Linked DNA regions of Homo sapiens. The protein of the gene in region 1 purifies or fractionates together with the protein of each later gene. This does not show direct contact. Each region holds a gene or a part of one and is shown in the gene's direction. Other genes may lie near its edges.

Region 1 (3,753 bases):
ATAATTTTCAAACATATGACAGGAAAGCATTTTTATGATACTTTCTTGTATTTTACATGTGTCTTATTTTTGGAATCAGAAAAACATATATGGTGATATTAGTAATTTTCAAAAACTGCACTGCAGAGAGCTCCCTTGCCCCTGAGTAGGGCCGTTGGAAGTGCTGTTCTCTGCCGTCTTGGTCCGACTCCGCCTGATACACAGACAGGAAACTTAGCAAGGCTTAGAAGTGGGCTGGAGCCCGAGTTGACAGATTGGCTGGTGTTATAATTTTTAAAATTACTGGCTATAGGGTACAGTGGCTCATTATTTTTTGTTGAGATGAGGTTTTGCCATGTTGCCCAGGCTAGTCTTGAACTCCTGGGCTCAAGTGATCCCCTTGCTTTGGCCTCCCAGATGCTGGAATTACAGGCATGAGTCACTGCACCCTGCTCTAAAATGATACTATTCTGACTGCAGCATCCCCCTCCACATTTCATGTTCTGATGTGAGCAAGAGAGCCTTCTCTTTCTGCCCATGTATTTATTATCCATGTGGACTCACTAATTGCTGGTTTTCAATGGTTTTAAATCAGTTACTGTGTTTATGTTTGTGCTCACATTGTCCTAGATTTGACCAGTGAGAGTTCCTCAGGCTGGCTCCTGTGCCCATCATGTTTTCGAGCATTTCCTTACTTTCTGAAATAAGATGCTCAGGCTCCTCCTGTTCTTTCCTTGCCCCAGCCATCATTCAGGATCTCCAAGGAGTCCGTTTCTTTTAGCGTGGAAGGTATTAAAGGGTGCTAGGCATGCCCATTGCCACAACAGTGTCTTTGCTTCTTGGCCCTTTCCGTGGACAGTTAGGAAATAGATGCATGTGTACACTCGTATACACACAGAGATATGTGTGCACACCTACATCTACACACTTAAACACATATGCACATAAGCATGCATATAGAAATCACAGTTCACACGAGTGCCTCCAGTTCCATTGCGCCTCTGCAAGTTCTGCTGTAACTCTCCATTCTATGTTTGTATGTCCTTTCTTCAGCAGTTAGTTAGCACCCTGGCTCCTGGCAGAATCAATACATTTACTCATTTGCTCACTCTATGATACATCTAAAATAGTTTAGTCTTTTTTTTTTTTTTTTTGAGATGGAGTTTTGTTCTTGTCACCCAGGCTGGAGTGCAGTGGTGCGATCTCGGCTCACTGCAACTCTGCCTCCTGTGTTCAAGTGATTCTCCTGCCTTAGCCTCCGAAGTAGCTGGGATTACAGGCGCCTGCCACCACGCCTGGCTAATTTTTATATTTTTAGTAGAGACAGGGTTTCACCATGTTGGCCAGGCCAGTCTCGAACTCCTGACCTCAAGTAATCCGCCCGCCTCAGCCTTCCAAAGTGCTGGAATTGCAGGCGTGAGCCACCACACCAGGCCTAAAATAGTTTATTCTTAATTAGACTGCACTTATCATAGCTATTTAAAATAATTCAGGATCACCCCTTCCAGACCACAGTGTTAACTTCAGATGAACATCCTTCTAGAGTTCTGTATATATACCTATAGATAAACATACACAATTTTATTAAATTGTAATCATACTGTGCATACTTTTCTGTAGCCTGACTTTCCCCCGACTAATTAATATAACAGCTTTCCCTAATATCTCATCCAGCATCTTTTTGTCCACAAAAGAAATCCATAGCGTATTTTTTAATGGCTGCAGAATTTGACCATAATTCCGTTATTGCACTTTGATTTTAAAAGGCATCAGTTTTTCGCTATTATATATAAAGCTGGCATCAACATCTTTGTAACTAAATCTTAATTATTTCCTTAGGATAGAAGTGGAATTACTGGGCAAAGGGTATGTATATTTTTCTGTCTTTCTGAATGACTGTATTTGTGCTCTGGCCAGCAGTTTTGGAGAGTGCTGGTTTTCTAGACCAGTGTTTCTCAACTGTGGGTGCATATCAGAATCATTGAGGGCACTTTTAAAAGCAGTGATACCCAGGACCAGCTCCCAGAGATTCTGGTTTCATGGATCTGGGGTGTGACCCAGGGTTTATAGTTTTTAAAAGCTCTCCAAGAGATTTTATATGCGGCCAGTTTGATAGGTGAAAGTGGTATTCCATTTTTTTAATTATAATTTTCTTCTGAAATTGTTTCAGGCATTCAGATTTGGGAGAAGTAGCCCCAGAAATAAAAGCATCAGAGAGACGAACAGCTGTGGCCATTGCAGGTAAAGTTGGATGAATTGGATGTGGGCCCACTCTGGAGCTGAAGTACTTCTCCTGTCCCCTTGGGATTCTGGGTTCCAGCCCCTCCTGGACTTGGGATTGTGCATCTCAAAAATAAATAAGTTTAAGGCTTTTATTTTTCCTTTTACAAGAAGATTCCATCTAAGGGTCTTTTAAGCATTCCTCATATATTCAAAATAGTGTTTTTTGTTTGTTTTTTTTATGGGCAACACTTTATTCTAGAAAATGGAGTAAGTGTTCCCAGGATTCAGTTAAACAGGTGATTATGACACAATTTAACAGAAACACATTACCCCAATTTTAGCATAACTGCCATTGTAGGTCATAGTTAAGGTGACTGTATAGTTTATCTTCTAAAGTGGGCACTTCTGAGAGTGAAAGGGATGTAATGTTGGGAAAACAGGTATAAATTGGGATTGTCCCAGAGCACACTGGGGCTTGTAGTCTTCCTGGTTATGGTCCATACAGGCTGGTTTTTCTTTCTCTGAGGATTTGGGGGTGGGGCTGTAACGCCACCCTTTGTAAATTCACCTTTAAGGTATGGTGGCCACACTCCAGATATCTTTAGCTCTCTTACTAACTCATTTTGTTTTATATTTTCTTTTCTTTTATTATTTTATTTGATATTTTATTTTATTTTTTGAGACCAAGTTTCGCCTTTATTGCCCAGGCTGGAATGCAGTGGCGCGATCTCAGCTCACTGCAGCTTCCACCTCCTGGGTTCAAGTGATTCTGCTGCCTCAGCCTCCCAAGTAGCTGAGATTACAGGCATGCGCCACCATGCACGGCTAATTTTTTGTATTTTTAGTAGAGATGAGTTTCACCATGTTGGCCAGGCTGGTCTCGAACTCCTGACCTCAGGTGATCCACCCGCCTCAGCCTCCCAAAGTGTTGGGATTACAGGCGTGAGCCACCGTGCCCAGCCAGTAACTCATTTTAGATATATCTTTCATAAATTAGGTTCTTCTTAAAATGAATGTGCTAAAAAAATAAACTATGTTTTAACTGCCAAAAAAAAAAGTGTTCTATTGGATATTAATAGAGTTATGCAAAAACAAAAATCCACAAAAATATGCAAATAAGTTTTGGTTAATAAAGTTTTATTTTAGGCTGGATACAGTGGCTCACACCTGTAATCCCAGTACTTTGGGAGGCCAAGGCAAGAGGTTCGCTTGAACCCAGGAGTTTGAGACCAACCTGCGCAACATAGTGAGACACCGTCTCTATGGAAAAAATCACTATTTTATTCATTCAAACAAATATTTTTTGAGTACTTACCATGCACTAACATTGTTGTAAGCATTGCGATATTGTAAACAATAGTAAATGAAAAGGCTCAAAGCCCTTCATGGAACTTAAATTCTGGAAGGTAGGCACCATGGGGATTATTGGCCAGTTGGTCAAGGCTTGTAGCAGAATTGGGATCAGGCAGTAATTGCCCAAAGCCCTTTAGTTTCTCCACATCTAGAATTATGCTATTCAACACAGTAGCCACTAGGCACATTGTTTAAAAT
Region 2 (3,753 bases), on another chromosome or scaffold:
GAGGCAGGGTGTGGGGCTGGGCTGGAGTTGTCAGTCCTTTACATTTTGTGGTCCCCACAAGGATGCTTTCAAAGCTTTGCACTTGGGCCAAATGGAAGCGGCTGCTTGAGCTGCTGTGTCTCCAGTTGCCCAGGCCAGCCCAGCCTCCCCTGGGGCCATGAGGATCAATATTTCCTTACAGAGGGCTGAAAGAATTCCAGGGATTGACATCCAGGTGCTGGGGAAGACCCCCCTAGAATCTCCCTACCCCATCCCCCCTGTGAGGGCAGCTTGGCCAATTTACCCACTGCTCCTGGCTCTTTACCAGCCTCCTGGGGCAATGATAACTCAAATGCAGCATAGCCACGTTCTAGGCAGTGTGCTGAGGATTATCTTATTTCATTCCCATTGAAACCCCCTAAGGGATACATCCAGATGAGGGCTTAGGGCCACGGAGAGGATGGGAGACTTGTCTGAGGTCCCACAGCTGGGGAGTGCGGAGGCCTTGTCTGAACTGGTGCGTGTTCCCTATAAGTGGCAAGAGTGCAAGGCTTCTGGAGCTTCTCAACACTCAGAGAGGCCCAGAACCCGAGGGAGCTGTCCAGAGGGCTGCTAATGGGGAAAATGTCGGTCTTGCCATCTTCTTTCTTCCTCCCCTGGGGGTGGCCCAGGTCATCTTTCTCCGAGGGATTGCCTTTGGCAGAGTGAGACCTGGGTCCCTCCATCTCTGTTAGTAAATTACTGGAGGGGCAGAGAGATGATGGCTTTACTCCAGAAGGCCTTAACACAAGTCACTGACCCCTGTGTGTGATGACACTAGGACAGCAGACAGTAGCCCAAGGCATCAGCTTCTGGGGCCTCCTGGCCCTGAGGTCTGTGTTAGAGGCTTGAGGGCAGGTCCCCAGAGCCCAGGACAAAGGCAGCTGTCAGGGTGGAGCCCAGGCGAAGCTGCATACTCTTCTGATGTGTGTGGGTTCGTGGAGATGTGGGTGTAGGGGTGTTGGGGTGTCTAAAGCCGGCTATGGGAAGCCATGTCATACTTGGCTACCTTCCTATGTTCCTTCTCACAGCAAAACTCTTGGACTGATCATTTGAAGTCACCCCTCTGTGTCTTCTTGTGAAATGGCTTGGGCGTCTCTGGGCTCTGACTTGCTCATCTGGGAAGAGATGGGGTAGAGGGAGTTGGATTATAAATCATGCTTCACTCAGTCAACAGAATGCTACTCAGGCACTAAAAATGATGGCGTAGCCCTACGTATTCTGACATGGGAAGATGGCCACAATATCTTATTATGTGGAAAAAACTAGTTGCATAGGATTTATGGTTTGATTACATTTTAGTAAAATAAATTCATTTATGGTGGTATATGCAAAGAAAAAATAATGCCGGGCGCAGTGGCTCACGCCTGTAATCCCAGCACTTTGGGAGGCTGAGGCAGGTGGATCACTTGAGGCCAGGAGGTTGAGACCAGCCTGGCCAACATGGTAAAACCCCATTTCCATTAAAAATACAAAAATTAGCACCAAGCGTGGTGGCACGTGCCTGTAGTCCCAGCTACTCAGGAGGCTGAGATGGGAGACTTGCTTGAACCTGGAAGGTGGAGGTTGCGGTGAGCCAAGATCACGCCACTGCACTCCGGCCTGGGCTACAGCCAGACTCTGTCTCAAAAAAAAAAAAAAAAAAAAAAGAGAAAAAGAAAAAGAAAAGAAAAAATCGAGATGTAGACACACTAAAGTGTGAACAGATTTTCTCAGGGGTTGATGTACTCACAAAAACATCTTGGCCAAGCATTGAAGCTCATGCCTGTAATCCCAGCACTTTGGGAGACCAAGGTGGGCAGATCACCTGACGTCAGGAGTTTGAGAACAGCCTGACCAACATGGCAAAACCCCATCTGTATTAAAAATACAAAAAAAAAAAAAAAAAAAAAGCCAGGCGTGGTGGCGTGTACCTGTAGTCCCAGCTACTCGAGAGGCTGAGGCAGGAGAACTGCTTGAACCTGGGAGGCAGAGGTTGCAGTGAACCAAGATCACAGCACTGTACTCCAGCCTGGGCGACAAAGTGAGACCGAAAAAAAAAAAAAAATTTCTGTATCAGCTGTTAAGATTGTGACTCCAAGTCCTAGAAAAGTGAAAACAAGTTTGCACCTGTTTCATCAAACTCAAGGATATTATTTGATGGAATTGTCCCTTAAAATAAAGCTGCCACTGTCAGAAGTTGGTGTTTAGGCGCATTCCATTCCCAGTGGTCTGTGCTAACAGAAATGCAACCTTGGCAGTGATTTACATGCCTGGGTTTGAGTGGGCCGGGTGGTTTTCTGTGGCAGATTAAGGTCCCTCATTGTGCTTGATTTTCAGTTCCACCTATACATGTTGTCAGGACACTGTGCTGACCCTGGGGGCTGAGGGACACACATTGGCTGGGGCAGGAGAACTGGGCTTGGTGGGGATAAGAACAGAATTTATGGCCGGGCACGGTGGCTCACGCCTGTAATCCCAGCACTTTGGGAGGCCGAGGCGGGCAGATCACGAGGTCAGGAGATCGAGACCATCCTGGCTAACATGGTGAAACCCTGTCTCTACTAAAAATACAAAAAAAAATTAGCCGGGTGTGGTGGCGGGCGCCTGTAGTCCCAGCTACTCGGGAGGCTGAGGCAGGAGAATGGTGTGAACCCGGGAAGCGGAGTTTGCAGTGAACCGAGATCGTGCCGCTGCACTCCAGCCTGGGTGACAGAGCGAGACTCCGTCTCAAAAAAAAAAAAAAAAAAACAACCAGAATTTATGATGTATATGGTTTCTCAAGACAACTTTGAGAAAAAACTTCTAGAATTTTTAAAAATATGTAAGGACACTGAGTGTTCCATAAGAACAAACGTGTCTGTGATATAAATAAAACATGTCGGCCTGACATTGGGGTAAGGAAAATGAACTCCAGGGGTTGACAATGGCCTTGCATCTCTCTTTTGGGCTGGTGCTTCTCAGGGGAATGGACTGAGTTTTAGGGCCTGACATGAGTTTTCCAAGAGTGGGAACTGGGCCTCCCCTATTAGCCCGAGGCTCTGCAAGGATGAAACCCTGTTTCCTCTCTCAGGCTGGAAGCTCCCGGTGACACTGGAGGGTCCCGCTTCTCATCACTGCTGTCCCCGGGGTTCGATGGAGCTCTGCACAAGATTCCTGCCCTGGTGGTGGGACCACGATGTTGGGGCAGTGATGTGGGAAGATGAGAACAGGGACTAGAGATCAGAGAGGCAGGACATCTTTAAAGAGCCCCTCCTGCCTCACTCAGGTCTTCAGGGGTCTTTGGCAGTATGTGTAATGGTAGAGACCAGTGACTTGAGGGCCATATGTCCCAGATTCAAATCCTGGCTCCTCCACTAACTCAGCGTCTATACCTCACTTTTCCCATCTGCAACATGGGCATACTAGCACATACCTTACAGTATTGTCATGAGTTGGCCCACATAGAGCACTTAGGATGGCACCTGGGTCGGAGGAATCCCTTGCTAACTGGTGGCTGTCCTGTGCTAGTAAAGAACTGTGGGGATTTCATTACTGAAGCCGGGGAGAAAGCATGAGGAAGAAGCAAGCCTCCCTTGCCCGTGGTAGGGGTCGCGGTTCCCTGCCCTCATTTCTTAGTAGCCCTTGGCCGCCACCCTGAGCTCATGTTTTGTTAGCCTCGGCCCTGACTCCATCTCTTTCGGTTTCAGGTGGGACCATCCGTGAAACCGGTGCCAGGATGCACCGGGGGTGTGGATGACCGGCCGCCCAGCCCCA

The links. Proteins that work in one complex are often made in the same cells at the same time.
Region 2: the proteins of URGCP (region 1) and CUEDC1 purify together in Homo sapiens (co-immunoprecipitation; 2 studies listed by BioGRID and IntAct, with this or other methods). This does not show direct contact.

The regions. Positions count from the first base shown.
Region 1 is NC_000007.14:43,885,882-43,889,634, reverse strand, and holds part of URGCP (up-regulator of cell proliferation), read left to right. Parts: intron 1-1,818; coding exon 1,819-1,845; intron 1,846-2,149; coding exon 2,150-2,220; intron 2,221-3,753. Other genes in the region: URGCP-MRPS24 (uncharacterized protein LOC100534592), read left to right, coding at 2,150-2,220. UniProt on the Homo sapiens protein: May be involved in cell cycle progression through the regulation of cyclin D1 expression. May participate in the development of hepatocellular carcinoma (HCC) by promoting hepatocellular growth and survival.
Region 2 is NC_000017.11:57,885,813-57,889,565, reverse strand, and holds part of CUEDC1 (CUE domain-containing protein 1), read left to right. Parts: intron 1-3,686; 5' UTR 3,687-3,753.